Linked DNA regions of Homo sapiens: regions 2 and 3 are each reported to be linked to region 1. Evidence: microRNA targets listed by miRTarBase, many of them from high-throughput screens and not tested one by one. Region 1 holds a microRNA gene; each other region holds the end of a gene's coding sequence.

Region 1 (10,469 bases):
CTTTGAAGGGTTTCATTCTATCGTAATTATTATCCTTAATGAAGCTCAAGTTGTCCCATCTTGGCCAAAATTGCCTCTTGTGTCCCCTTGGCAGAACTGTAGTTGTCTTTGTTAGCTTCCTTGCTATCTTGTATGACAAGATGCTATAAAGTATATCACTGACTTTTGGTAGGATGTGATATTGACTTAGGAATAGACAAATATGTTGATGGAAATAAGGAATGGGATAATTCATAAGGTTATGCAATAGATATCTGTTTTTGTTGTTGTTGTTGTTGCTGCTGCCGGCATTTATCGCACTTCCTACAAGGACAGTTTCACAAAATTTATTTGAGATATTACTCTTCATTCATTTAGCCTTATTGAAGTGTGTTGAAGGGACTGACCCCGTCTGCAGCTCGGGCTGCCTTGACGTCAGTATATCCAGTTACCCTGTTGGGAGTGACTAGTTTATAAATGGGCATGGCCAGAGCCAACGGGAGATGAGAAGACATTCACTGGGACTTCTAGGAAAGACATTAGGATAATTGGCCTTCCATTTGGAGGAAGATGCTAAATTTCTACTTCTTACCATTGGCAAATATTAATAGAAGTGAAATTAAAACCCTAGAAGAGTCTATGATTATTAGAAGAGGCAGAAAGGCAAAAAGCCATATTGATAGATTGATAATTTGATTACATGATGTCGGAACTATACAACACCATGAAAAAAATTAAGACAAGCAACTGAATAGAAGTAGACATGTTATATACATAACAAAAAACTTGTGTCCAGCTCATGCCTGTCATCCCAGCACTTTTGGAAGCCAAGGCAGGCGGATCACTTGAGCCTAGGAGTTCGAGACCAGCCTGGGCAACATGACGAAACCCCCTCTTTACAAATGATACAAAAATTAACCACCACACCCACAGTCCCAGTTACTCAGGAGGCTGAGATGGGAGGATCACTTGAGCCTGGGAGGCAGAGGCTGCAGTGAGCCATGATCGTGCCACTGTACTCCAGCCTGGGTGACACAGTGAGACCCGGTCTCACAACAAACAAACAAACAAACAAAAACCTTGGCCGGGTGCAGTGGCTCACGCCTGTAATCCCAGCAGTTTGGGAGGCCGAAGTGGGCAGATCACCTGAGGGCAGGAGTTCGAGACCAGCCTGCCCAACATGTCAAAACCCCGTCTTTACTAAAAATACAAAAAATTAGCCGGGCGTGGTTCTGGGCGCCTATAATCCCAGCTACTTGGGAGGCTGAGGCAGGAGAATCACTTGAAACTGGGAGGCAGAGGTTGCAGTGAGCCGAGATAGTGCCATTGCACTCCAGCCTGGGTGACAAAAGCGAAACTCTGTCTCAAAAAAAAAAAAAAAACAACCAACAACCAAACAACCAAACAAACAAAACCCTTATGTCCATACCACAGTAAACCTTCTATATGTGGATAAGAAAAAAGGCAAATCAATAGAAATATGTGCAAAATATATGAATAGATCATTTACATATAAGGATCTGAAAGGGCAACCCCCTTCCCCAACATATGAAAGTTACTCTACCTCTCTAATAGTCAGTAAAGCACATTTTAAAACTTGGTACATAGTAGGATATACCAAAGTTTAACCATTCCCCTACTGGTGGAAAGTTAGATCATTTAAAACTTATTATTACATACAATGCTCATTGAAGATGTGTCTTGCCTCTTTGGAACATATTCGTGCTTTTGAGATGTTAAACCTTATAACCTAAACCTAGAATGTGATAGCAAACATCTTGGTGTCTGCGTCCTGAATAGAAGTTATATATTATGTGAACATACACTAAAATTTAGCATCAGAGTGTTCTTTGAATTGTATTTTTAATCATGTGCTTAATCTAATACACTTGGGAACTACTGGAACTTTTGCTGGTCAGATTAGTTCAAACAGTTAGAAATTGTTCTCTTTCCTTGAAATAAAGCTGATTGAAGGATTATGTTGTCTGAATAGCTGTAGGATTCAGAAACTCCTTTATAAAGACTTACTTTATTTTTAGGTTTAAAAATATCCATGATTTCTTTTGGATTAATGGTCTAAACATGCTTATTTGACTAAAGCCTTACTTTTTTATTTATCATGGCTATAGCTTGTTTGTTGTTCATTAGTTGTAAGTGTGTTCCAGGGAGAGGAAATTGTTTAATCTCTACTCAGTAGGGAAAGAAAATATTTATCAAATTCAAAATATGTATGCCTTTTGTTCAAGCAATTTCAATTTGAGGAGTCTTCCCTACAGAAATACTCATAAGCATATACACACACACATACTCACACACAAGGATGTTCACTGCACCATTGTTTCTAATATATAATTCAGTTGAAAATATGATAAATGTCTATCAACAAAGGAATGAATTAGCAAATCATGACCTGTCCCTAAAATGAGTGACAGCCACATGTATCACCTTGGAAAAATGTCTGTATATGAGAGGGTGCTGGAAGGGAACAGAACTCACCCCCAAATGGTTTGAATGAACATATATATATACATGAACATATACATATATGTATATGTATAGAGAGAGAGAGAGAGAGAGAGAGAGAGAGAGTCTTGCTCTGTCACCCAGGCCTAAGTGCAGTGGTGTGATCATAGCTCACTGCAACCTTCAACTCCTGAGTTTAAGCAATCCTATTGACCCAGCCTCCCAAGTAGCTGGGACTACAGGTGTGCACCACCACCATGCCTGGCTAATTTTTTGAATTTCTTTTTGTAGAGGTGGGATCTTGCTATGTTGCCCAGGCTGCAAATGAAGACATTTTTAAGGAAGAGTTTACTTACAGAGGTTAGGTGCCAAGCAAACAAAGAAGGGATGGTGAAGTGCCTAGAGACTAGCAATGGTGGAAAGTGATGCCCATTCCTAAGGCCTCAGGTACAAAGGAGAGGGCATAGCACAGTAGGAGCCCAGTGAAATTTGGAACCATGGAGGCAGGGCCACCCAGGGAGTTATAGCTAAGGATGGAGACAGCCACTGCAAAAGACAGAGCTGATGCAGGTAGGAAACAAGGAAGGAATACCCTGACTTTTTAAAATTAATTAATTTATTTTTTATTTTTTTCCGAGATGGAGTCTTGCTCTGCCACTCAGAGCTAGAATGCAATGGCACTATCTCGGCTCACTGCAACCTCTGCCTCCCAGGTTCAAGCAATTCTCCTGCCTCAGCCTCTCGAGGAGCTGGGATTATAGACGCGCACCACCACACCCAGCTAATTTTTGTATTTTTAGTAGAGATGGGGTTTCACCATGTTAGCTAGGCTGGTCTTGAACTCCTGACCTCGTGATCCATCCACCTCAGCCTCCCAAAGTACTGGGATTACAGGTGTGAGCCACCACGCCCAGCCTTACCCTGACTTTTTTCCTTTTATTCTCTGATATTTTGCTGCAGAGACCTCTGCAGTGACCTTTGATTGGCTGAACCCACTCGGAAACATTTGGCATGGGAGCCTGAGTAAAGTGGTCCACTGGCCAGAGAGAAAGGACAAATATGGCCCATGAAGATAGAGAATGACTAGCATGATGTTTTGAGGGTATTTTTGGTTTTGAAATCAATTAGCCTGGGCGCCGTAGCTCACACCTGTAACCCCAGCACTTTGGGAGGCTGAGGCAAGAGGATTTCTTGATCTCAGGAGTTGAAGACCAGCCTGGGCAACATAGTAAGACCCTGTCTCTAAAAGAAAAATTTTAAAAGCCGGGTGTAGTAGTCCCAGCTACTCCAGAGGCTGAGATGGGAGGATTGCTTGAGCCTGAGAAGCAGAGGCTGCAGTGAGTCATGATTTCACTCTAGTCTGGGTGACAGAGCAAGACCCTGTCTCAAGAAAAAAAATTATTTTTAATTGACAATAAAAGTTGTATATACTCATTGTGCACAGCATGATGTTTAGATATATGTGTGCATTGTGAGATGGCTAAATCAAGCTAATTAACATATTCATTACCTCACATTTTTTTTTGTATGCGGCGAGAACATTTAAAAACTACCCTCTTAACAATTCCTAAGTACAATTATCCCCCCATATCCAAGAAAAATTGGTTCCGGGACACCCTGTGAATTCCAAAATTTGGGGAATGTTCAAGTACCTTATTAAAAAAAGTGTAGTATTTGTGTATAACCTATGCACATCTTCCAATATATAGTTGGCTTTTGTTATCTGTGGGTTCTGCATCTGTGGATTCAACCAACCAGAAATTGAAAATATTGTGTGTGGGGGGGGGGAAAACAATACAACAATAAAAAATAATACAAATAAAAAGCAATGAAGTATAATAACTATGTAGCATTTGCATTCTATCAGGTATTATAAGTAATCTGGAGATGATTTAAAGGATAGGGAGGATGTACATAGGTTATATGCAAACGCTATACCATTTTATATGGGACTTTAGCATCCTCGCATTTCTGTATCTACAGGGGGTCCTGGAACCAATCCCCCACTTATATGAGGGGGATGTCTATACTTTAAATCATCTCTAGATTACCTATAATACCTTATATAATATGTGTTATATAAATGGTTGTTATACTATCTTTTTAAGTTTGTATTATTTTTAAGTTTTTTTTCCCAAATATTTTTGATATGAGATTGGTAGAATCATGGATGGAAAACCTGAGGATCCAGAGGACTGACTATATATAGCACATTATTTTTATTTATTTATTTATTTATTTATTGAGATGGAGTTTCACTCTGTCACCCAGGCTGGAGTGCAGTGGTGTGATCTCGGCTCACTGCAACCTCTGCCTCCCGGGTTCAAACAGTTCTCATGCCTCAGCCTCCCAAGTAGCTGGGATTGCAGGTGCCTGCCACCATGTCCGGCTAATTTTTGTATTTTTAGTAGTGACAGGGTTTCGCCATGTTGGGCAGGGTAGTCTTGAACTCCTGGCCTCAGGTGATCCACCCATCTCGGCCTCCCAAAGTGCTGGGATTACAGGCATGAGCCACCGTGTCTGGCTACAGTACATTATTAACTATAGTTACCATGTTGTACAAAAGATCTGTTGAATGTATTCCCCCTAAATGAAATTTTATATGCTTTGACCAATATCTCCCCAATTCTCCCTGATGATGTTTATGTTATGTTTTTTAAGTGGAAAAAAAGTTGCATAGCAATATATAATATGCTATTTTTGTAAAAGAAAACCACAACCACATATGTGAAATGCACATGGTTGTATAAACATCAGCATTATGTAAGAACACATAGCAAACTATAAACCTCAGTATTACCTCTAGAGGGTGAAAACAGATGGAGAAGGATTTATTTCTAACTTTCTATATTTTAATTTTTATAATATATTTTCTATTTCTACTAGGTGTGGGCTTTATTGGTTGATTTCTCGGTGAGTGCGTTTCCAAGTGTGAAGGGACCCTTCCTGTAGTGTCTTATATACAATACAGTAGGAATGTTCCTTCTTTGCCACTCATACACCTTTATGTGCATCTCACATGGTGTTCTTCCCCAGGTGGATGTGATTCTCCATGCCAGTGAAGAGTAAGGAAGGCCACAGCATGGTATGGGGATAGAATAAACTCTGCTGGGCTAACAAATAAACCCTGAACTCTCAATGGCTTAATGCAATAAAGATTTGTTTCTTATTCATGCTGATGTTCCTGGCCTGAGAGTTCACCAGAGCAGCTCTTCTCTAAGCAGCAAATTCAGGGATCAGGGCTTCTCCCATCCTGTGCATCTGCCATCTTGGAACCTTCATTTCCAGCCATGTAGAGGAAGAGAGAAGGAGCCTGAGAGACTGGGAGAGGAGTTTTATGCAAGGGAGTGCTGGGAAATGTAGTCTTCCTGGTTCTGCAGGCTGTATAAGAGGCAAAGACCAGCATCTGCTTCTGATGAAGGGCTCAGGAAGCCTCCAATCATGATGGAAGGTGAAGAGGAACCAGAGAGGAAGGAATGAAAGTTTCATTTTAAAAATTAGAGATGAGGTCTTGCTATGTTGCCCAGGCTGGACTCGAACTCCTGGGGTCAAGTGATCCTCCCACCCCAGCCTCCTGAGTAGCTGGAACTACAGTCTCATATCACCACACCCGGCTCAATATATTTTTATATTATAGAAATTTGTTATAAGAATTATGCATTTTTTGTGATTAAATGAATAAAGATAAACTATATTTTGCATAAAAAGAAAGCACTGTTACACTTAAGGCGAAGACAAAGGTAAGAAAACCCCTAAATGGTTATTAAACATTTAATTCACTTAAGGGCACTGCAGAGAGGAAACACTTTTAGAAATCTATGTTAATTCTGTTAACATTAAAGCCAAAGTGTAGGCTGGGCATGGTGGCTCAGGCCTGTAATCCCAGCACTTTGGGAGGCCAAGGTGGGAGGATTGCTTGAGCCCAGGAATTCAAGACCAGCCTGGGCAACATGGTGAAACCCCATCTCTACAAAAAATCAAAAATTAGCTGGGTGTGGTGGCACAAACCTATAGTCCCAGCTTCTCAGGAGGCTGAGGTATTAGGATCTCTTGAGCCTGGTAGGTTGAGGCTGCAGTGAGCCACGAGTGCACCACTGTCGTCCAGTCTGAGCAACAGAGTGAGGTGCTGTCTCAAAAACACCCAAAAAACAACAAGAACAAAATGTCAAAGTCAAAGAGTAGATCTTCTGTGCTCTAGTGTTGGTTAGGATCCTCTGTTGCAAAGATCAGAAATCAAGTCACTCAAGGAATAAAAGGGGAGTTGAAAAAATAGGAATATATGAATGGCTCATAAAATGGAATGATGGCAGGAAATAAAAGTTAAGACTCTCTGTTTGCCTCTCAGGACCTTATCTCTTAATTTTCTCCAGTAAACAAAACAAACTTTCTCTGCTCTTGGGGGAATATAATGGGAATAATATGGCTGCTTCACAGATCCTGAGTTCCATATTTCAGTTCCAGTCATTGAGAAGACTGCCTCAACTCTCTTTAGGTCCATATTCCAAAATCTTGAAAGAATTTGATTGGCAAATTTGGTTTGGATGTCTACCTTTAGTCCAATTAGCTATAGTCAGTGGGCAGGATCATGTAATATAGTACCAAGATACTGGAATATTTTAAATGGAGATAAAGAGATGTTGTCAGGTTAAGGTGGGGGCCATAAGTTCCCAAGCTGCCTACTACAGTTGCACAAAGGACAAAGAATATTATAGATTGATGAGCTAAAAATCACTTTTGCATTGCCCCACAGCTAAAAAATTTAAAAAGAGATTTCTGAGAGAGCCATAAAAAGGCAATAGTAAAACACTGATATAAAATCAGCTGGGGCCAGACAGGGTGACTGACACCTGTAATCTCAGCACTTTGAGAGGCTGAGGTTATCTGCCTGGATCACCTAAGGTCAGGAGTTTGAGACCAGCCTGGCCAACATGGCGAAACCCTGACCCTACTAAAAATACAAAAATTAGCTGAGTGTGGTGGCACGTGCCTGTAATCCCAATTACTCAGGAGGCTGAGGCAGGAGAATCGCTTGAACCCGGGAGGTGGAGGTTGCAGTGAGCCAAGAGCACACTCCAACCTGGGTGACAGAGTGAAACTATGTCTCAAAAACAAAAAACAACAAAACAAACTAAAACAACAAAACAAAACAAATAAACAGAAAAAAAGAATTAGCTGGTAAATCAGCTGGCATATACTATCAGAATAATAAATAAGAGTTGGCCCCCTGGGCTGGGTGCAGTGGCTCATGCCTGTAATCTCAGCAGTTTGGGAGGCCAAGGTGGGTGGATCACCGGAGGTCAGGAGTTCGAGACCAGCCTAACAAATATGGTGAAACCTCATCTCTATTAAAAATACAAAAATCAGCCGGGTGTGGTGGTGCATGCCTATAGTCCCAGCTACTCAGGAGGCTGAGGCAGGAGAATTGCTTGAATTTGGGAGGTGGAGGTTGCAGTGTGCCAAGACCACGCCAGTGCACTCCAGCTTGGGTGACAGAGCAAGATTCCGTCTCCACAAAATAAATAAGAGTTGGCCCTCTGTATTTGTGAGTTCTGCATTTGTGAATTAAACCAACCACTGATTGGAGTTATTCAGAAAAATTAAAAACAACCGTACAATAATAAAAATAATACACATTAAAAAATTGGCCAGGTGCGGTGGCTCACACCTGTAATCCCAGCACTTTGGGAGGCCGAGGTGGGTGGGTCACTTGAGGTCAAGAGGTTGAAAGTAGCCTGGCCAATGGGGCAAAACCCATCTCTACTAAAAATAGAAAAATTAGATGGGTGTGGGGGCCCGCGCCTATAATTTCAGCTACTCGTGAAGCTGAAGCATGAGAATTGCTTGAACCCGGGAGGCGGAGGTTGCAGTGAGATCGTGCCACTGCACTCCAGCCTGGGCTACAGAGGGAGACTATGTCTCAAAACAAAACAAAAACAAAAACAAAACTAGTATAACAACTATTTACATAGCACTTACATTGTATTAGGTATTATATGTAATTTATAGATGATTTAAAGTACATGAAAGGAGGTGAGTAGGTTATACGCAAATCCTATGCCTTTTTTTTTTGACGGAGTCTCACTCTGTCACTCGGGCTGGAGTGTAGTGGTGTGATCTCGGCTCACTGAAACCTCCGCCTCCTGGGTTCAAGTGATTCTTCTGCCTCAGCCTCCCGAGTAGCTGGGACTACAGGCACGTGCCACCATGACTGGCTAATTTTTTTATTTTTAGTAGAGACGGGGGTTTCACCATATTGGTCAGGCTGGTCTTGAACTCCTGACCTCGGGATCTGCCTGCCTCGGCATCCCAAAGTGCTGGGATTACAGGTGTAAGCCACCGTGCCCGGCCTACTATGCAATTTTATACAAGGATCTTGAACTTCTGTGGATTTTGGTATCTGTGGGGAGTCCTCAAACCAAACTCCCATGGATGCTGAGGGACAACTGTACAAATATTGAACAATTGAAAAGGTCACAGATAACTAGATGTAAAAAATAGTTACTGGCTTGAAAAAAGGTAAGAATACCTGATAATTGCACCACATTGTGTAGGTCTCACAGGGTTTCCATATTCCCTTTCCAATATAATAAATAAAACCTTGTAAAAGCAATTGAGGCTGAGTGCAGTGGCTCATGCCTGTAATCCCAGCACTTTGGGAGGCTGAGGCAGGAAGATCATTTGAGTCCAGGAGTTCGAGACCAGACTGGGAAACCTAGGGAGTCCCAATCTCTACAGAAAATTAAAAACAAAACAAAACAAAACAAAAAAACCAACCAGGTGTCATGCACCTGTGGAGTCCCAGCTACTCAGGAGGTTGAGTTGGAAAGATTGCTTGAGACCAGGAATTCAAGGTGGCAGTAAGCGCTAATCACGCCACTGCACTCCAGCCTGGGCAACACAGCAAGACCTCATCTCTTAAATTAAAAAAAAAAAAAAGCAATTGAGTCTCAATAAGTCAAGTCACTTGCTTGAAGTCACACACAAACCACAGACTTAGGACTCAAACTCCTCGTTTTCACTTTATGTGCAGAGGCCTAACTTATAGAAAATGCCTCCTACCTTTTTCAAAGGTAGTTTACTTTTTTTTTTTTAGCATTGAAAGTAAAGGCAGAAATGACTTTTAAAGTGCTACATTTTCAGGGAAAAAAAGTGGATTAGGAACATTAGTTTCCATTCTGGCATGTAAGGAGCTCAGAAGTCACTACTCCTGGCTGGGCACCGTAGCTCATGCCTGCAATCCCAGCACTTTGGGAGGCTGAGGCAAAAGGATTACTTGAGCCCAGGAGTTCAAGACCAGCTGGAGCAACGTGGCAAAACCCCATCTTTACCAACTATACAAAAATTAGCCAGTCGTGGTGGCACATGCCTGTAGTCCCAGTTACTTGGGAGGCTGAGGTGGAAGGATCACTTGAGCCTAGGCAATTAAGGCTGCAGTGGGCCATGATTATACCACTGCACTACAGCCTGGGCAACAGAGCAAGACCTCCAGCTAAAAAAAAAAAAAAAAAAAAAAAAGTCACCACTCCATCTTAGCAAGTAAAAAGCTGAGTAAACTGAAAAATCAACAGCTCTTCTTAGATCCATAAGAGATGGGAGGTCATAGAGTAAACCCCAAATTGGAAACACAGGTGAATGCAGATAATCACAACTTAATTACTGGAGCAGAAATCTTCATGGGAATCAGTGCTGGAGTGGGAAAACCTGAACTGTAATTGACAAATTGCTGGAGGCTTGGTGTGGACAAGTCTGTGAGATAAAAACTTTATTGGGAGGCTCCCACACTTTTGTAGTTTTACCTCCAGGGGCTCTACTAGGTTCTCACAGTGAATTTTGCAAACGATCCTCTCATGCTTCCAACAAGGGGAGAGGAAAAGGAACCATCTTGAAATGCCCTAGAGCATTCTGTTCTTAAGAACAAGGTCTTCCCTCAGGAGAAATTACTTAACTGGAGCCTAACCTGCTGGGGTTTTATAACAGCCTAACTGATCTGGGGGAAGGGAAATACCCAACTCCAGCCTAGTCTAGCT
Region 2 (10,469 bases), not on the chromosome of region 1:
TGTTGGTCAGGCTGGTCTCGAACTCCTGACCTCAGCTGATCTGCCCACCTTGGCCCCCCAAAGTGCTGGGATTACAGGCGAGAGCCACTGTGCCCCAGCTCCTGTGTATATTTTTAAAGGGCTAATCAGGGAAGTAGGCTCTACATCCTGAAATGAGGGAGAAAGGATTCCAAAGCCAAGTGGAAGTCAGTTCAAAAACAGAGTCTTCCTGGAGACCATGTGAGGGTGGAAGCAGGCAGAGTGGAGGGGACCTATTCAGTCCTGAGAGCCTCCAATTTCCCTGTGAAGAGGAAGAGGAGGGGAAGCATCAGGCTGGATAAGTGGCCAGGGACCAGAGCCGTCTCTCTCTTCTAACCCTCAGCCCAGCACCTGCCAGATGGGAGGTGCTGAGAACACGTAAGTTGAAGGATAAAGCAAAGAATTAAAAGGATGGAGAAAAGCCCACTGGACCGAAAACCAGGAAGTCACTGGTGACTTGAGAAAAGTTTTGGTGAAGTGAAGGAATAGAAGCACAGATACCAAGGGATTTGGGGTGGTTTGGGGAAGGCAGGTGCTATGGTTTGAATGTGTCCCCTCCAAAAACCTGGCATTGCCAATGTGATAGTATTAAGATGTGGGGCCTTTAAGAGGTGATTAGAACTTGAGGGTTCCTCCCACGGGATGGATTAAGGTCCTTATAAAAGAGGCTTCATGTGGCGGGGCATGGTGGCTCACACCTGTAATCCCAGCACTTTGCAAGGACAAGGCGGGTGGATCACGAGGTCAGGAGTTCAAGACCAGCTTGGCCAAGATGCTGAAACCTCGTCTCTACTAAAAATACAAAAAATTAGCAGGCGTGGTGGCACGCACCTGTAATACCAGCTATTCGGGAGGCTGAGGCAGAGAATTTCATAAAGCTGGGAGGTGGAGTTTGCAGTGAGCCGATTTCACACCACTGCACTCCAGCCTGGGCACAGAGTGAGACTCTGTCTCAAAAAAAAAAAAAAAAAAAAAAAAAAGAGGCTTCATGTAGCATTTGGCCACTTGCCCTTCTACCTTCCTCCATATGAGGACATAGCATTTCTCCACTCCAAAGAATGCAGCAATAAGGTGACATCTTGAAAGCAGAGAGCAGCCCTCACCAGATACTGAACCTGCTGGCACCTTGACCTTGGGCTTCACAGCTGCCAGAACTGTGAGAAGTAAATTTCTGTTTTGATCCGTTATCCAGGCCCAGGTATTATGTCATAGCAGCGGGAAGGGACTAAGACAGTGGGCCTGACCATGAGAAGATGTTGCCGAGGAAGTGACCTTGGAGTTGAGACCTGCAGAGGGATTTACCATGAAGCCAGTGAAGCCCTGGTGATTTTGTATTCAGGGAATATGGCAAACAAGGAAAACGAGAACAAAAAGAGAGGACAGAATGGGAGCAGAATGGAGGTGGGAGACAGGGCCATGCCCAGACTTGTCAAAACAGAGGTCGCTGGAGGGTATTGGGGGAGAGGAGAAGGGTGTAGCAAGAGTGGAAACCACATCTCTCCCAGCAAGGTGGGCCCTTGACAGACAGCCACAGAGTAACAATCACAGCAGGAACATGCCTGGAGTTAGAGTGCAAAGCTACCTGTTTAAAATATCAAAGAGGCCAGGTGCAGTGGCTCACACCTGTAATCCTAGCACTTTGGGAGGCCGAAGGGGGCAGATCATGAGGTCAGGAGATCAAGACCATCCTGGCTAACACGGTGAAATCCCGTCTGTGCTAAAAATACAAAAAATTAGCCGGGCATGGTGGCACGCGCCTGTGGTCCCAGCTACTCAGGAGGCTGAGGCAGGAGAATCGCCTGAACCTGGGAGGCAGAGGTTGTGGTGAGCTGAGATCACGCCCCTGGACTGCAGCCTGGGTGACAGAGCGAGACCCTGTCTCAAAACTAATAATAATAATAATAATCATCATCATCATCATCAAGGATACTGATGTATTCCAGGATAAAATGGCACATTTTAAAAAGTTTGATTGGCTTTATTACTAATGAATTAAATAAATAAATAAGGGATAAACTAAAAGAATAAAACAAAATATAAGAAGTTGTTGGAGGCCTGGGTGTGGTAGCTCATGCCTATGATCCCAGCATTTTGGGAGCCTGAGGCAGGAGGATCGCTCAAGCCCAGGAGTTCAAGACCAGCCTGGGCATCATAGTGAGAGCTCGTCTCTCTAAAAAAAATAATAATAAACAAAATTAGCCAGGCGTGGTGGTACATGCCTATAGTCCCAGCTACTCAGAGGCTGAAGTGGGAAGTCTGCTTGAGCCTGGGAGGTCAAGGCTACAGTGAGCCATGATCACACCACTGCATTCCAGCCTGGGTGACAGAGTGATACCTTGACTCAAAAAAAAGTTGTTAGAGATGGAATTTATTGTAGTCCTTTTTTTTTTTGAGATGGAGTCTCACTCGGTCACCCAGGCTGGAGTGCAGTGGCATGATCCCAGCTCACCACAACCTCTACCTTCCGGGTTCAAGCAATTCTCCTGTCTCAGCCTCTCGAGCAGCTAGGATTACAGACGCCCACCACCACACTTGGATCATTTTTGTATTTTTAGTAGAGATGGGGTTTCACCACGTTGGCTAGGCTGGACTCAAACTCCTGACCTCAAGTGATTTGCCCACCTCAGTCCCCCAAAGTGCTGAGATTACAGGTGTGAGCCACCGTGCCCGGCCTTTTTTTTTTTTTTTCTTTTAAGATGAGTTCAGCCCTGGCAGGAACATCGTCAGTCCTCCCTCAGGTCTGCAGACACCTTGGGTCTGTGGTCCCTCCTGCCACAGCTCCCAAGTTTCTCTGTCCCAGGATCTGGCTGCAGGGGTCTGACCGGGCCCTGTTCCCTCTTCCGTGGCCTCGTCTCTGTTGGGGCCACCTGCTCTGGTATCTGGGACTTGCCTCCTCTTTCTCTCTCAGTCTTGTTGGACCTTTTCTAGTTGTCATCAGCTTGAGACATGATTCACATACCATCAAATTCACCCTTTTAAATGTACAGCTTAGTGGTTTTTAGTATAGTCACAAGGTTATGCAACCGTCACTACTATTGAATTCCAGAACATGTTTACCACGCAAAAAAGGACCCAAAGGTTAAAGACCCATTAGCAGCCACTACTTCTCATTTCCCCCTGGCACTCACTAATCCACGTCCTGTCTCTAGGGCTTTGTCTGTGTGAGTATTTCATCTAAATGGAATCACACAATATGTGGCCTCTGTATCTGGCGTCTTTCACTTAGCACGGTGTTTTCAAGGTTCATCTATGCGGTGTAGCACATATCACCATTTCATTCCTTTTTATGTTTAAATAATATTCCATTGTATGGAGAGACCCCATTTTATCTGTTGTTGATGGGCATTTGGGTTGTTTTCACTTTTTGGCTATTATGAAGAATGCTGTAATAAACATTTGTATGTAAGTTTTGCTTTGTTTTTTTGGTATCTTTGAGACAGGGTCTTGCTGTGTTATTCAGGCTGGCCTCGAACTCCTGGGTTCAAGATACCCTCTGGCCTCAGCCTCCTGAGTAGCTGGGACTATAGGCGAGCACCACTGTGCTTGGCTTATGTACAAGATGTTGTGTGACCGTGTGTTCAGTTCTCTGGGCGTGTACCTGGGAGTAGAATTGCTGAGCTGTATGGTAACTCTACTTAGTTCTGAGTGGCTGCCAAACTGTCTTCCACAGCGGCTCCATTTTATATCCCCACCAGCAACGCATGAGGGTTGCAATTTTTCCCACCCTCGCTGACACTTGTCACTGTCTCTTTGGATTCTATCATCAGATTTGTAATGGAAAATTCCCCATCCACATGTGACTGCCATGTCCTCCTTCCTCCTCTGTGGACATTTTTTCTATTCCTGCAGTCACCGTTCCCTTCTCTCCCACTTTCTAACCATCAAGCCCCATATCCATCCTCACCCTTGCATAGAGCCTTCCTCATAAAAAGCCCCCATAGCTTCACAGCAAGGCCTTCACTTCAGCTGTTGCCTCCTCCAGGTAGCCCTCATGACCTGTATGTGGACGTACCTATCACTGCTTATATTTGTCCCTGCCCAAATCTCATGTGGAATTGTAATCCCCAGTGTTGGAGGTGCGGCCTGGTGGAGGTGTTTGGGTCATGGGGATGGATCCTGCATGGATTGGTGCTGTTCTCGAGATAGTGAGTTCTTTCCAGATCTAGTTGTTTAAAAGTATGTGGCACTGGCTGGGCGCGGTGGCTCACGCCTGTAATCGCAGCACTTTGGGAGGCTGAGGTGGGCGGATCACGAGGTCAGGAGATCGAGACCATCCTGGCTAACACGGTGAAACCCCGTCTCTACTAAAAATGCAAAAACATTAGCCGGGCGTGGTGGCGGGCGCCTGTAGTCCCAGCTACTCGGGAGGCTGAGGCAGGAGAATGGCGTGAACCCGGGAGGCAGAGCTTGCAGTGAGCCGAGATGGCGCCACTGCACTCCAGCCTGGGCGACAGAGCGAGACTTCCTCTCAAAAAAAAAAAAAAAAAAAAAAGTATGTGGCACCTCCCCACACTCCTCTCTCTTTTGCTCCTGCTCTAGGCATGTGGTGTGCCTGCACCCTTTTGCCAAAAGTAAAAGCTCCTGAAGGCCTCCCCAGAAGCCCAGCAGATGCTGGTGTCATGCTTGTACAGCCTGCAGAACTGTGAGCCAATTAAACCTCTTTTCTTTATCAATTACCCAGGCTCAGGTTGTTTTTTGTTTTGTTTTGTTTTTGAGACAGAGTCTTACTCTGTTGCCCAGGCTGGAGTGCAGTGGTGCGATCTCATCTCACTGCAACCTCTCCCTCCCTGGTTCAAGCGATTCTCCTGACTCAGCCTCTTGAGTAGCTGGGACTACAGACACACACCACCATGCCTGGCTAATTTTTGTATTTTTGGTAGAGATGGGGTTTCACCAAGTTGGCCAGGCTGGTCTCAAACTCCTGGCTTCAAGTGATCCGCCTGCCTTGGCCTCAGGTATTTCTTTTTTTTTTTTTTTTTTTGAGATAGACTCTCGCTCTGTCACCAAGGCTGGAGTGCAGTGGCGCCATCTTGGCTCACTGCATGCTCTGCCTCCCAGGTTCACGCCATTCTCCTGCCTCAGCCTCCCAAGTAGCTGGGATTACAGGCGCCCACCACCACGCCCGGCTAATTTTTGTATTTTTAGTAGAGACGGGGTTTCACCATGTTAGCCAGGATGGTCTCTACCTCCTGACCTTGTGACCCGCCCGCCTTGGCCTCCCAAAGTGCTGGGATTACAGGCGTGAGCCACCGCTCCCGGCCAACCTCAGGTATTTCTTTATAGCAATGCAAAATGACCTAATACACTGTGCCTTTCACAAGCTCCTCTTTGAATCTTTAAAAGCAGCAAGAATCAGGATTCTTGCCAATTTGAGTTTAGGGGAAGTAAAAACAGCAGGGTTCAAGTATATATTTTATCATCAGATATCCTCCGGATGTCCTCCAGAGGTCTTAATCCCACCCTCCTCTTAATCACCTTCATAAATTGCATCATGAATGTACTTTATCAAAGTTGAAATAGAAACTTAGTTGCCCTCTGTTAATCTGGGTAGTAGCCTTCTTGACCAGACTGGAAGCTCCTTGAGGGTAAGTGTATTTGTCTGTTCTCATGCTGCTGATAAAGACACACCCAAGACTAGGTAACTTATAAAGAAAAAGAGGTTTAACAGACTCACAGTTCCACGTGGCTGGGGAGGCCTCACAATCACAGTGGAAGGTGAAAGGCACATCTCCCACGGCCACAGCAGCAGACAAAACAGAATGAGAGCCAAGTGAAAGGGGAAACCCCTTATAAAACCATCAGATCTCGTGAGACTTATTCACTACCATGAGAACAGTATGGGGAAAACTGCCGCCGTGATTCAATTATCTCCCACAAAACCCTCCCACAACACGTGGAAATTACAGGAGCTACAATTCAATATGAGATTTGGCCGGGGACACAGCCAAATCTTATCAGTAGGGATTCTGTCTTGCTGTCTTTGTGCCAAGCACAGTAGATGCTCAATTAATGTATTGAAATAGCTTTTGTTGAAAAAAGTTTTTAGCGTTTCACCAAAATAAAAAAAAAATTCTCAAAAAGTAAAATGCATCATAACCTTTATATAGCGTGTGTGTAATGTTTATGACTTTATGTATATGTGGTAACACTAGAGCATGGCTATTAGAACCCAAAATTTCTTATGGCTTCTCTCAGAACCCCAGGGGTCCAGTGAGCACAATACTGAGACAGCCTCAGGCAGTCTGCTAAACTGGGGTGAGCCTTGAGTCACGGTGCCCCGGCCAATCAGACCAGTGCTTCCCCCATCCCAGCACTCACAGTCCTGGCTCATCATTTCATCATCTCAAAAGAAAAGAGCATGACCACTTTCAGACCTTGTTAGCCTGTAAATGCCTGTATCTGTGCTACAGATGAGCAGCATTTCAAGTCGTCTGGAGTAAAGTCTGTGCTGCTGGCAATAGCTGTGTTATCCTGACTTTTCTTCCCCAAGCCCTGTTCTCTGTAACAGAGACGTGTTGTGAAATGCTGTCACTTGCTTCTCCCTTTCCCTTGGGAGCACCCGGCCAATGGAAGCCTTGCAGGTGCGGGCAGTCAGGGATCAAAAGGAAGCTTTGCAGCTGCCTTCTCCCCAAACTTCCAATAACCAGCTACTCAAATACACGCTCCTGAACCCAGGTGAGGCAGGAAAGGACATTACACATCCCACAGGTTCGGATTCCACTAAGCCTTTTAGCTTCTGGGTAGGCAGCATTAACTGGAGCGGCAGCTCTCTACCTGTGTGGCTGGGCAGCACCAGCATAACCTGCCAGCGTACCAGAAACGCAAATCCCTGAGCCCCATCCTTCCTGCGAGGGTAGGGCCCAGCAATCTGCACTTGGCCAAGTGTTCTAGGTGACCGAGAGGCACACTCAAGTGTGAGAACTGCTGAACTGGAGTTAGTGAGTTCAGCAGTCCTTAACAGGGTGGGAAGGTGCTCCCCGTCTCCAAAACCAGAAAACACAGCAGAGGAGACCTCCCTTCAGATTCACCCAAGTGAGGGCTCCTCTGGCAACTGGCCAAGGGCTTCTATGGAAACTGCACAGATGGTGCAGGTAAACAGTATTGTTCCCAACAGGCTCACGTGGGTCATGGGCACCCCACTTCTCTAGCACAGAGATTCATGGAGCTTCCTTTTTTTCTCTGATGTGTATGAAATCCTGAGTCCTGAGTTGCAGCTTCCCTTAGCAAACCTCATGAATCCTTGCGATCCTCACAAGGCCACCTGGAGCATAATTATAATTCCAACAAACTAGAACATCCCCGGAGGTGCTGCCTACAGTGTGTCAGCTTTGGGCTCAGAACCATGAATGGAGACAACGGTGCAGGGGCTGAGGAGGGGCAGGAAGAGCCAGGAAGACAGAGCAGGAGGCAAGGATGGAGTGCTCAGGGAGTCAAAGACGGCGTCCGCACTTGCAAAACGCTGGCTTTCACATCTGGAGAATTTAGGCCTCTGGGCCGAGGAGAAAGAACTATAGTTTCACCTCTTAGGCGTCTCCTTACAGGGCTAGGGAGATCTAGAATATCAGCCGAATGCCCAGGGCAAGTAAGTGCCTGGCACCAATTCTATAACTCGGGGCCAGCCAAGTTTTAACAAAGTAGGCAGAAGGTGGGACGAAATAGAGTGTGGAGGGAAGGAGGGAGAAGAGTCAGGTGAAATATGGAAAAAAGAGGGATGGCCAGGTGCGATGGCTTTCACCTGTAATAAAACACTTTAGGAGGCTGAGGCAGGTGCAGTGGCTCATGCCTGTAATCCCAGCACTTTGGGAGACTGAGGCGGGTGCAGTGGCTCACGCCTATAATCCCATCACTTTGGGAGACCGAGGCGGGCAGATCACCTGAGGTCAGGAGTTTAAGACCAGCCTGGCCAACACGGTGAAACCCCATCTCTACTAAAAATAAAAAAATTAGCCTGGGCTGGTGGCGTGCGCCTATAATCCCAGCTACTTGGGAGCCTGAGGCAGGAGAATCGCTTGAAACCGGGAGGCAGAGGTTGCAGTGAACTGAGATTTCGCCACTGCACTCCAGCCTGGGCAACAGAGTGAGACTCCGTCTTAAAAGAAAAAAGAAAGGGATGGGCAGATTTGCCCCCTTTGCCCTGCATCCAGCCATTTCACACTGTCAGCCACTTCTCACCATCTGCTTGCAAGACTGGCAGGGTCAGAGCATTCGTGACCATCTTAGCATCCGTGGAGCCTGTGGCTAATTCAAATCAAACAGAGTCAGACTGCTGAGAAGAAAATTATAGAAACAAAGTATTTATTATTTTCCATTAAAAAAAAAAAAGGAAATGGTGCCCAAGAGAGGAATGTTCCTAAGGAAACCCAGTGTTTCTTGCCGTGTCTTCTCTAAATGACAAACGCTCTTTGGCAAAAGAAAACAATTAATGCAACTAGAACTGCCTTCTGAGAGCAAAGTTTAATCCTGACCCAGAATTATAATAATTTCTGAAAGTTCTATTAATTTCAGCACACTGTGTAGGAATTACTCAGGCTTTTCCCATCCTATAGCTCCTAAAAAACCAAAGTGGCTAACCATATCTGGCATAACAGAGGAAGTAAGGTGCATTTCCTGATCTTCCACCATCACAGAAAAGCACACTTAATTTGCATCTCAAGTCGTCTGGAGTAAAGTCTATGTTGCTGGCAACAGTTGTGTTATCCTGACTTCTCTTCCCCAGGTCCTGTTGTCTGTAACAGAGATGTGTTGTGAAATGCTGTCACTTGCTTCTCCCTTTCTTTCCTTTGGGAGCACCCGGCCAATGGAAGCCTCGCAGATGCAGGCAGTCAGCGACGTTGTGGGCGATGTAGTAGAGGTTCAGCATGGCCGCGGGGCTGAGAATGTCCACTTCTGGTTTCTTCTGTTTCTTCCCATGAGACTTGCCCTGGCCTTTTCCTTTTTTCCCTTTAGCTGGCTTTCAAAGACAAATATAAATATGGGAGGAGGGAAGTTAGTTTTTTGGTTTTTGTTTTTTTTGAGACAGGGTTTCACTCCCAACACCCAGGCTGGAGTGTAGTGACATGCTCTTGGCTCACTACAACCTCCACCTCCCGTGCTCAAGTGATCCTCCTGCCTCGGCCTCCCAAGTAGCTGGGATTACAAGGTGTGCCCCATCACTCCCGGCTAATTTTTGTACTTTTAGTAGAGACAGGGTTTCACCATGTTGGGTAGGCTGCTCACAAACTCCTGACCTCAAGTGATCTGCCCACCTCAGACTCCCAAAGTGCTGGGATTACAGGTGTGAGCCATCTTGCCAGGCCGAGTTAGTTTTTATAAACTTGGTATCATTTTCAGTATTTCTGTATTGAACAAGGAAAAAAAATTCCTAAAAGGAAATAAGTCAAAATAGCAGCCACAACAAACAGTTTGCATCGTCCTGTCTTCTCTAAATGACAAACCCCCTTTGGCAAACGAAAACAATTAATGCAACTAGAACTGCCTTTTGAGAGCAAAGTTTAATTCTGACCCAGAATTATAATAATTTCTGAAAGTCACACGCAATCTAATTTGACAAATGTTTATTAAGCACCCTGATTAAAAGAGACCCAACGTAATGCAAGCTGTGGCCCTTGTTTGCATTCTTATTTGAACAAGCTGCAAAAAGATGTCTTTGAGTTAATCAGGGAAATCTGATCATGTCAAGGAATTATTAGTAATTCTATTAGGTCTGACAATGGCAGCAAATCACAGAAGAAGAAGTCCACACGTTTCTGAAGTGCACACTGAAATCTGTAGGGATGAAATGAAAGAAGGCCTGAGGTTTGCTTTAAAACACTCAGCTCCCCCGCTGCCCCCGACCCAGAAAAAACAGATAAAGCAAATGTGGCAAAATCCTAATTATTTCTGAATCTGAGAAATGGCTATATGAGGATTTAGTTTATGATTTTATTTTCATTTATGTTTGGAAATTTTCATAATACACATTAAATTTAAAACAAGTTTGATAATCAGGATGCAAATATGTATGTTGGCACTTGTTTTACAAGTAATCTCTACCTCATTAAGCAGTCATGAGGTTTAAGTGAGATACAAATATAAGATACTTAGCATAGGCTGGGCGCGGTGGCTCACGCCTGTAATCCCAGCACTTGGGAAGGCCAAGGCGGGTGGATCACCTGAGGTCAGGAAGTTCGAGACCAGCCTGGCCAATAAGGTGAAACCCCGTCTCTACTAAAAATACAAAAACTAGCTGGGCATGGTGGCAAGCGCCTGTAATCCCAGCTGCTCAGGAGGCTGAGGTAGAAGAATCGCCTGAACCCAGGAGCCAGAGGTTGCAGTGAGCCGAGATCACGCCACTGCATTCCAGCCTGGGGGACAGAGCGAGACTCTGCCTCCCCCCGCCTCCCCGCAAAAAAAAAAAGACACTTAGCACCATGTCTGATGTGAGACAAATACTCAATAAATGATGACTGTCA
Region 3 (10,469 bases), not on the chromosome of region 1:
AGGGCAGAGGGGCAGGTCTGAGCAGATATAGTAAGGATTGTTGCCCCAGGTGGGGCAGTGAGGAAGGCAGGGAAGGAAGAATGCCTTTCTGCTGTAATCGGCTGCCTCCATGATGACCACTTGGAAGCTGCTGGGGCATGAGGGCTCTTGAGTCCCTGGCCCCACCTGGCAGTTCAAGGCTGGAGGTATAGGATCCTGACACTGGCAGGTTCTCCCAAGTGGTTTCAAGTGGGCTCACCCTGGTAGCTGACTCATCGCTAACCCCACCCCAGGTAGGCAAATGGGCCCAGGACTGCAGAGACCAGATGCTACAGAAGGTCTCTCTTTACCAGGCCCATCCCCCTGACCCAAGTATAGGGCCAAGGTGCAGCCTGCCTGCTGTGGGAGGAAGTTGGGCCATTCTCTCACTTCATCTTCAAAACAGTCCTGTGTGGTTTTAATTACTATGATCTCCATTCTGCAGATGAGAGCTCAGAGAACTTAAGTAACTAGCCCTAGGTCCCACAGTTCACTGAATCTGGTTTCCAACCTAGGGCAGCTAGACTCCAAAGTTTATGCTCTAACCTTTCTAATTCCTCGATTCCCTAAAACAACTGAGATCTCCCACCTGAGACGAAAAAGTCCTCTCAGTAGTCTAATTCTGCTACTTACTGGCTGTGTGACCTGCAGCAAGTTACTTAACCTCTCAGAGCCTCCTAAAACTGTGATAAGAATTAAAGAGAATAATATCAAAGCACTTATCAGAATGTCTGTTAGACAGCAGATGCTCAAGCTAGTGCTATTTATATTATGATCACTGAGGGACTGATGTGGCTAGGCTTCCCATGCAGTGGCCCCAGGGTCTGAATCCAGGCTCGGTAGCCTCAGGCCTGGGCATACCATGGCAGAGTCCATCAACTGCTGCCTGTTATCTAATTGCAGATCAAGTCCTGCTACTACCTGCCTTGCTTTGTGACTTCCAAGAACGAGTGTCTCTGGACCGACATGCTCTCCAATTTCGGTTACCCTGGCTACCAGTCCAAACACTACGCCTGCATCCGGCAGAAGGGCGGCTACTGCAGCTGGTACCGAGGATGGGCCCCCCCGGATAAAAGCATCATCAATGCCACAGACCCCTGAGCGCCAGACCCTGCCCCACCTCACTTCCCTCCCTTCCCGCTGAGCTTCCCTTGGACACTAACTCTTCCCAGATGATGACAATGAAATTAGTGCCTGTTTTCTTGCAAATTTAGCACTTGGAACATTTAAAGAAAGGTCTATGCTGTCATATGGGGTTTATTGGGAACTATCCTCCTGGCCCCACCCTGCCCCTTCTTTTTGGTTTTGACATCATTCATTTCCACCTGGGAATTTCTGGTGCCATGCCAGAAAGAATGAGGAACCTGTATTCCTCTTCTTCGTGATAATATAATCTCTATTTTTTTAGGAAAACAAAAATGAAAAACTACTCCATTTGAGGATTGTAATTCCCACCCCTCTTGCTTCTTCCCCACCTCACCATCTCCCAGACCCTCTTCCCTTTGCCCTTCTCCTCCAATACATAAAGGACACAGACAAGGAACTTGCTGAAAGGCCAACCATTTCAGGATCAGTCAAAGGCAGCAAGCAGATAGACTCAAGGTGTGTGAAAGATGTTATACACCAGGAGCTGCCACTGCATGTCCCAACCAGACTGTGTCTGTCTGTGTCTGCATGTAAGAGTGAGGGAGGGAAGGAAGGAACTACAAGAGAGTCGGAGATGATGCAGCACACACACAATTCCCCAGCCCAGTGATGCTTGTGTTGACCAGATGTTCCTGAGTCTGGAGCAAGCACCCAGGCCAGAATAACAGAGCTTTCTTAGTTGGTGAAGACTTAAACATCTGCCTGAGGTCAGGAGGCAATTTGCCTGCCTTGTACAAAAGCTCAGGTGAAAGACTGAGATGAATGTCTTTCCTCTCCCTGCCTCCCACCAGACTTCCTCCTGGAAAACGCTTTGGTAGATTTGGCCAGGAGCTTTCTTTTATGTAAATTGGATAAATACACACACCATACACTATCCACAGATATAGCCAAGTAGATTTGGGTAGAGGATACTATTTCCAGAATAGTGTTTAGCTCACCTAGGGGGATATGTTTGTATACACATTTGCATATACCCACATGGGGACATAAGCTAATTTTTTTACAGGACACAGAATTCTGTTCAATGCTGTTAAATATGCCAATAGTTTAATCTCTTCTATTTTGTTGTCGTTGCTTGTTTGAAGAAAATCATGACATTCCAAGTTGACATTTTTTTTTCATTTTAATTAAAATTTGAAATTCTGAACACCGTCAGCACCCTCTCTTCCCTATCATGGGTCATCTGACCCCTGTCCGTCTCCTTGTCCCTGCTTCATGTTTGGGGGCCTTTCTTTAACTGCCTTCCTGGCTTAGCTCAGATGGCAGATGAGAGTGTAGTCAAGGGCCTGGGCACAGGAGGGAGAGCTGCAGAGTGTCCTGCCTGCCTTGGCTGGAGGGACACCTCTCCTGGGTGTGGAGACAGCTTGGTTCCCTTTCCCTAGCTCCCTGGTGGGTGAATGCCACCTCCTGAGATCCTCACCTCTTGGAATTAAAATTGTTGGTCACTGGGGAAAGCCTGAGTTTGCAACCAGTTGTAGGGTTTCTGTTGTGTTTTTTTTTTTTTTTTTGAAATAAAACTATAATATAAATTCTCCTATTAAATAAAATTATTTTAAGTTTTAGTGTCAAAAGTGAGATGCTGAGAGTAGGTGATAATGTATATTTTACAGAGTGGGGGTTGGCAGGATGGTGACATTGAACATGATTGCTCTCTGTCTCTTTTTTCAGCTTATGGGTATTTATCTTCTATTAGTATTTGTATCTTCAGTTCATTCCACTTTAGGAAACAGAGCTGCCAATTGAAACAGAAGAAGAAAAAAAAAAAAAGCAGCAGACAACACACTGTAGAGTCTTGCACACACACAAGTGCCCAGGCAAGGTGCTTGGCAGAACCGCAGAGTGGGAAGAGAGTACCGGCATCGGGTTTCCTTGGGATCAATTTCATTACCGTGTACCTTTCCCATTGTGGTCATGCCATTTGGCAGGGGGAGAATGGGAGGCTTGGCCTTCTTTGTGAGGCAGTGTGAGCAGAAGCTGATGCCAGCATGTCACTGGTTTTGAAGGGATGAGCCCAGACTTGATGTTTTGGGATTGTCCTTATTTTAACCTCAAGGTCTCGCATGGTGGGGCCCCTGACCAACCTACACAAGTTCCCTCCCACAAGTGGACATCAGTGTCTTCTCTGTGAGGCATCTGGCCATTCGCACTCCCTGGTGTGGTCAGCCTCTCTCACACAAGGAGGAACTTGGGTGAAGGCTGAGTGTGAGGCACCTGAAGTTTCCCTGCGGAGTCGATAAATTAGCAGAACCACATCCCCATCTGTTAGGCCTTGGTGAGGAGGCCCTGGGCAAAGAAGGGTCTTTCGCAAAGCGATGTCAGAGGGCGGTTTTGAGCTTTCTATAAGCTATAGCTTTGTTTATTTCACCCGTTCACTTACTGTATAATTTAAAATCATTTATGTAGCTGAGACACTTCTGTATTTCAATCATATCATGAACATTTTATTTTGCTAAATCTTGTGTCATGTGTAGGCTGTAATATGTGTACATTGTGTTTAAGAGAAAAATGAAACCCACATGCCGCCATTTTCCTGAATCAAATTCTGCAGTGGAATGGAGAGGAAAATACTTCTAGGCAAGCAGCTAGACTGGTGAATTGGGGGAAATAGAAGGAACTAGTAACTGAGACTCCTCCAGCCTCCTCCCTATTGGAATCCCAATGGCTCCTGGAGTAGGAAAAAAGTTTAAACTACATTCATGTTCTTGTTCTGTGTCACTCGGCCCTGGGTAGTCTACCATTTACTTCACCCCAAGTCCTGCTGCCCATCCAGTTGGGAAGCCATGATTTTCCTAAGAATCCAGGGCCATGGGAGATACAATTCCAAGTTCTCGCTTCCTCCTTTGGGCATCTCTTCTGCCTCCCAATCAAGGAAGCTCCATGCTCAGGCTCTCAGCTCTCGGGCCAGTGCTCTGCTCTGTCCAGGGTAGGTAATACTGGGAGACTCCTGTCTTTTACCCTCCCCTCGTTCCAGACCTGCCTCATGGTGGCAACATGGTTCTTGAACAATTAAAGAAACAAATGACTTTTTGGAATAGCCCTGTCTAGGGCAAACTGTGGCCCCCAGGAGACACTACCCTTCCATGCCCCAGACCTCTGTCTTGCATGTGACAATTGACAATCTGGACTACCCCAAGATGGCACCCAAGTGTTTGGCTTCTGGCTACCTAAGGTTAACATGTCACTAGAGTATTTTTATGAGAGACAAACATTATAAAAATCTGATGGCAAAAGCAAAACAAAATGGAAAGTAGGGGAGGTGGATGTGACAACAACTTCCAAATTGGCTCTTTGGAGGCGAGAGGAAGGGGAGAACTTGGAGAATAGTTTTTGCTTTGGGGGTAGAGGCTTCTTAGATTCTCCCAGCATCCGCCTTTCCCTTTAGCCAGTCTGCTGTCCTGAAACCCAGAAGTGATGGAGAGAAACCAACAAGAGATCTCGAACCCTGTCTAGAAGGAATGTATTTGTTGCTAAATTTCGTAGCACTGTTTACAGTTTTCCTCCATGTTATTTATGAATTTTATATTCCGTGAATGTATATTGTCTTGTAATGTTGCATAATGTTCACTTTTTATAGTGTGTCCTTTATTCTAAACAGTAAAGTGGTTTTATTTCTATCACACATCTGCTGTCTCTTGCCTTGTTGTGTTCTGACGCCACGGGGAGTTATGTATACACCAGCAGGCCTTGAAAGTCTATCCCCAGCTCCAGGCCTGGACACATCCCTCCCTCCATGCACCGCTATGGCCTGGCCCCACCCTGCTCCAGTCCTTTTCCCTTGCAGAAGGAATCTTAGGAGAGGTGCCCTGCCTTGACTTTGCTCCCTGATTCTATTGCTAGAGTCCTCCCTAGTTCTGCTGAATCTGGATGTATTAATATATCTGTACCTAATCACCTATTGGTGGTACAAGTACCCCCAGACTGGAGTCCTTACTCAGCCCTCCTTGTTTTCTTCCTAAGAATCCCAACCTGGTGGAGGTGGGGAGGGGCGGCCTGCAAACAGCAGTCCTTGATGTCAACTGCCTGCTTGAAATTCCAAGTATGGCTTGGCCTAGTTGGGAACACCAGGAACTCATGAGGTCTCACGACAGCTGGTGACCTTTTCCCAGAGCTTATAACAACCTCCTTTCAGAGTATACAGCAGGGCCTCTCACTGTCAATGGGCTGGGCTGGCTGCAGACCCCTCGCCTGACTTTCATCCCACCATTGACAACGTTCTAGGTTTTCACCCTTGTTTTAAAGCTACTCCTACTATATGCCAGGTACAGCACTTTATATACAGGATCTCATGAAATCCTGACTACTCGATGAGGTTGCTCCACAATCATCCACGGTTTTTACCTGAAGAAGTTGGGGCTCACAGAGATAAAGTCATTTTCCTGAGACCTAGTGTGTAGACAGAACTGGCATTCAAATTCAGGCTAGTTTGATAATGAACTCTGAATTTTCCCCACTGTAAGGATGCATACAGTAAGAAAAATCCAGGGTTTGGGGATATGCTGGGTTTCACATGTGCCCTTCTTATCTCAACCAGCATGTTCTGGATTCTGTGACTCTTGCCCGATCAGATACAGGGGAAAGATCATCAATAGAAATTCTGCTTGGTTAGAGTGATTACTCCTGAAATCTGCAGTCCTACCCATCAGTATCTCCAAACAGGACTGTCTAGCCCAGAAGCCTGAGCTTGGACTCTACAAACAGCCACAGTAAGTCCCCACCTGGGACTATGGTATACTCTATTCATTATTCTGTTCCCAAAGACGCATTCCCTGCAAGGCCAAGCGCAGGGTCACAGCCTTGAATTCCTTTGACCAGTTTACGAAGACCATCAACTATGCAAGCAGGCATGTTGCAGGCTCTTTCCTGCTGCTTAGAGCTCCTCCCCCCAACACTTTCTGGCTTCAGGTGGAGAACCCTTCACCTCATTCAGAAAGACATTCACCTCTTCCACCCAGGTATCCTCCAAATGGGAGGCTGTACCACATATCCTGAGCTAAGCCCTGCTTCCCAGAGGAGATCTCAGGTGCATTCAGAAATTGGAAAGTGAAGAGGACATGTAAGGAAACTGCCCTTCAACAACCAATGCAAATCAAATATTAATATTACTGCTTTTTATTAAAATATGAGTTGAAATCAGGTTCCACAAAAGGCTCAAGTAAAACAACATCCCACCTTGAAAACATCTTTTACCTTTATAATCAGCCTCTGGTTCTAACATGCCCCCAGAACGTGTCCCCTGATTTGCTGAAAATCTCCAAGTTCCAAGGAATGTGGTTCACCTTTGTTATTTGCCCTATTGCCTGAATTTCACCTGGAGAGACGACTTCCCTTAGGAAATCCAGGCACTCCCACAGGACACTGTGACTCCGCCTTAGAGTCTGCGTGGTCAGTGTACAACCCCTAGAGTCCACCTCCTCCATCCAAAGAGACCGAGGACAAGTCATCTGTATTCATTCCGCATCATGCAAAGAAACAGAGTAAAAAAGGGCACTCACCATTGGCTTATGGTTGGGGAAAAATGTTTGCTCCACAAGCGGGAACTTCTCAGGACCCAGGGAATGGAAGATCTTAATGAGCTGAGAGAACTAGGATAGAAGAGGAGAGAACATTGATCAACTATTGTCACCCAGTATAACAAAACCTCCCACTTGATCTGAGGCCTCAAGCATCTGACTGTTCTGAGCCGAGCTTCAGTAGGTGCTATCCTACCCTGCCTATAGGATAAAGACCAGATTCCTTGGCTGGACATTCATCCTCTCCATCATCTAGCCATATTAACCCCTCCATTTCTGCCCAAGACCTAGTAAGTAGGCAGAACACTGGGTTCAGCCCAACCATATTTAATGAGCACTTACTATAGCCTCAGCATTTCACACCATGTCCTTCTCCACCTGCTGATGTTCATGCCCTGCTCCTTGCCTGCCATACCTTCTTTCTAGAGAGGCAGCGCTGCATGGTAATTGATGGTGTTAGATGTGGATCCAGCCTTCCTGGGTTCAAATTCTTGCTTTGCCACTTACTAGCTGTATAACCTGGGAAGTCAATTCAGGTTTCTGAGCTTTCGTTTCTTCACTCGTAAACTGGAGATCCAACCTCATGGGATTGTTGTAAGGATACAGTGTGTCAGAGGCAGTGCTTTGTCCACAGCAGTGCTAAAATGCTAGGTGTTATATTAATAAATATTTTCTCTGCTGTTGCAACCCCTCTCATTTCCAACAGCTCAAGCCACATCCCTTCCCACTGCTCTCCTCCTGCTTCAACACTTGCTTGTTTTGCCAGATACTAGCTACTGTCTCCGGAGCTCAAAGGTGAGCTCTGTCGCTATGCTTTATTATTGGAGCAACAAGCTGAATATGGGGGCAAGGCCTGAAGGAAGACAGGCTGCAGGTGCATGGCTGTGACACTAATATCTTGCTGGAGGGAAGCATAGGGGGTGAAGGGACCTGGAAGGGGGACAGAGTAGGGAGTCAGGATGATCCCCTGGAGCAGACGACATAAGAGAAGGAGAAAGGGCCCTCCGGGTGTGCATTGAGACTAATGTATGCTGGAGACCCTCTGCAGCTGCCATGCTGTGGCGTCAGTTGCAGGTGATGATGAGAGACGAGGTGGAAGCATGATCCATCACAGACCACCAGCCTTAAAGGCCTGACCAGAAAGCTTAGAATTCACCCAGAAGGTGAAGGAGAGCTGCTGGTGGATATAAGCAGAGAAGAGCAAATCAGATTCCGAACAAGATAAAGGAATCAACTGGAATTTGTGGTCCCATGTGGATGCCCAGTGGTTAAAGGAGTGGCCAACCTGACTTGGAGGTCACTCAATACTAAGAGCCTGGACACTGAAAACAGAGTAACTAGGAACTTTCTGCATCCACCCAAGATTGGTCTGCAAACTCTTGGGGTATAGCCTTCAGATGCAGCACAACAGGGAGTCAACTTCGAGGGTTTAAGAGAACTCAGAAATATGGAAAACGATGTATGTGTGTGTGGGGTCCCTCATTTTGCAGACAAGGAAATTGGAGTCCAGAAAGGGAGAGTGATTCCGCAGGTAAGCACATGAGTTTTGAAGAGGCCTAGCTCTACCACTTTCTACTAGCTATGTGAGCCTCAGTTTCCTCATCTGTAAGATGGAGATATTAGCAACTCCTACTCATAAGGGTGCTAAGAATTAAACACAATATGCACGTTAAGGGCTCAGGATAGCACACGGCTAGTGCTGATGAGTTGTGGTTGCTACTATCGTGATAACTGTGATAAAAGGTGGGGAAGGGCTAACACCATCTAGGACCCTTTCCTAACAGTGGCACTCGAAAATCTTGGATGCCATTGGCCAAAAAGCCCAGTTAGGGCAGAATGAGAAGGAGACCAGGGCCATGACAATAGTGGTAAATTCTATCCATACCTATTAAATTAATGCATGTAGCCATTCAGTAAGTACTGAGTGTTCCAACTCTACATGGAACTTGTTCCAGGTATCTAAGGCAGTGAAAATTTTTACCACTTATTGAGTGTGTACTTTGTGCCAGCCACATTCTAAGCGTTTTCATCTATTAAATCATAACCCTACCAGGAAGGCGCTATTACTACCACCACTTTCCAAATAAGGAAGCTAAGTTCAGAGAGGTTAATGGGGTTGCTGCTCGAGTAACACAGCTCATAAGTGGAGAAGCCTGGACCTAGGAATCTGGCTTCAGAGCTCACACTCTCAACTACCACCCTACACCACCAGGTGATCACACAGAGAGATAGCAAAACACCACAGACCAGACAGCTATGAGCTTCATAGAGCACTTTCTACATACCCCAAGCCTCCACATTACCTATCCTCTTTCTGTCCTTGATCTTCCCCCTTGCCACTGATCATAGGACATATTGCATATTTGGCATAAGTATTAAAGCACCGCACATGCCCCTGCTCACTAGAATGTAAGATCCACAGGGCAGGGATTTTGGTCTGATTTGTTCACTGCTATGTTTCTAGGACTTACAACAGCACCTGGAACACAGTAAGTGCCCAAGAAGTATTTGCTACATGAACGAATAACTTCTAATCAGGGAGACAGATAATGCACAAATGAATGGATAAATTTATCATTCTAGGTGGAGATAAGTATCTAGGAAAAAAATAAAGCAGGGTAAGGGATTTGAGAGTACTTGAGCGAGTGGAGGAGTGGTATTTTTTCTTTGAGATGGAGTCTTGCTCTGTCACCAGGCTGGAGCGCAGTGGCGCAATCTCAGCTCTCTGCAACCTCCACCTCCTGGGTTCAAGCAATTCTCCTGCCTCAGACTCCCGAGTAGCTGGGACTACAGGTGCACGCCACCACGCCCAGCTAATTCTTGTGTTTTTAGTAGAGACGGGGTTTCACCATGTTGGCCAGCATGGTCTCGATCTCTTGATCTCGTGATACACCCGCCTCGGCCTCCCAAAGTGCTGGGATTACAGGCGTGAGCCACCGTGTCTGGCGAGGAGTGGTATTTTAAGAAGTCTTTCTTACAGGTAACATTTGGATGGAAACTCAAATAAATCAAATGAATGACTGAAACTAAGGAATAAAAGAAGAGAAATTAAATGTTGGGTGTTGGAGAGAGAGATGGCTTAAATTGTGGCCTCACCACTCACTGAGCAAGTTCCTTAAGTGGCCTGAAGCTGAGCTTCCATCTCTGTAAAATGAAGGGTTGACACTCACTTCACACGAGAGCGACAGTTTGAGTGCCAGGTAGCATAGTTTTCTGGGACATAGTAAGTGCTCAATAAATGGAGTCTGCTGTTAACAATAATGATAGAATGTTCATAAAACAATATGGTGCATCTTTATGACTAATATTATAACATAACACCATATCATAATGTTATATAATAACATGTTTTGTTATTATATATTATTAATAGCATATATTGTCACTGTATTATATATTATATATTACAAAGATCAATTATTACATATATGTAATATCATATATCATATATTACATGTAACATGTATAATATATAACATGTATATATTAACGTATATGCATTTATTTATTACAAAACTTTTTTTCGAGACAGAGTTTCGCTGTTGTTGCCCAGGCTGGAGTGCAACGGCACGATCTCGGCTCACCACAACCTCCGCCTCCCGGGTTCAAGCGATTCTCCTGCCTCAGCCTCCCGAGTAGCTGGGATTACAGCGGGATTACAGACATGCGCCACCATGCCTGGCTAATTTTGTATTTTTAGTAGAGATGGGGTTTCTCCATGTCGGTCAGGCTGGTCTCGAACTACCAACTTCAGGTGATCCGCCTGTCTTGGCCTCCCAAAGTGCTGGGATTACA

What was found. The annotated mature microRNA hsa-miR-613 reads AGGAAUGUUCCUUCUUUGCC and lies in region 1 at 5,415-5,434, shown strand. An mRNA with a match to its seed (bases 2 to 7 or 8) in the 3' UTR can be bound and repressed. Matches are read on the target gene's strand: a 7mer-m8 pairs with bases 2 to 8, a 7mer-A1 pairs with bases 2 to 7 and ends in A, and an 8mer does both.
Region 2: the mRNA of SMKR1 is a reported target of hsa-miR-613. Seed matches in the 3' UTR shown: 7mer-m8 at 8,360-8,366.
Region 3: miRTarBase lists TIMP3 as a target of hsa-miR-613. Seed matches in the 3' UTR shown: 8mer at 2,259-2,266 and 7mer-A1 at 2,875-2,881.

The regions. Positions count from the first base shown.
Region 1 is chr12:12,759,295-12,769,763 of GRCh38, forward strand. MIR613 (microRNA 613) reads left to right here and starts at 5,355; the gene lies at 5,355-5,449. It also overlaps a transcript of APOLD1 not described here.
Region 2 is chr7:129,510,746-129,521,214 of GRCh38, reverse strand. It overlaps SMKR1 (small lysine rich protein 1), which reads right to left. Exons shown (of 2, transcript NM_001195243.2): 2 at 8,297-8,968. The coding sequence ends at 8,774. Among named protein-coding and RNA genes, the nearest start is that of SMKR1, 13 kb to the right of the region's middle.
Region 3 is chr22:32,858,259-32,868,727 of GRCh38, forward strand. It overlaps TIMP3 (TIMP metallopeptidase inhibitor 3), which reads left to right. Exons shown (of 5, transcript NM_000362.5): 5 at 922-4,783. The coding sequence ends at 1,119. SYN3 (synapsin III) reads right to left here. Exons shown (of 14, transcript NM_003490.4): 6 at 6,657-6,746. Among named protein-coding and RNA genes, the nearest start is that of TIMP3, 62 kb to the left of the region's middle.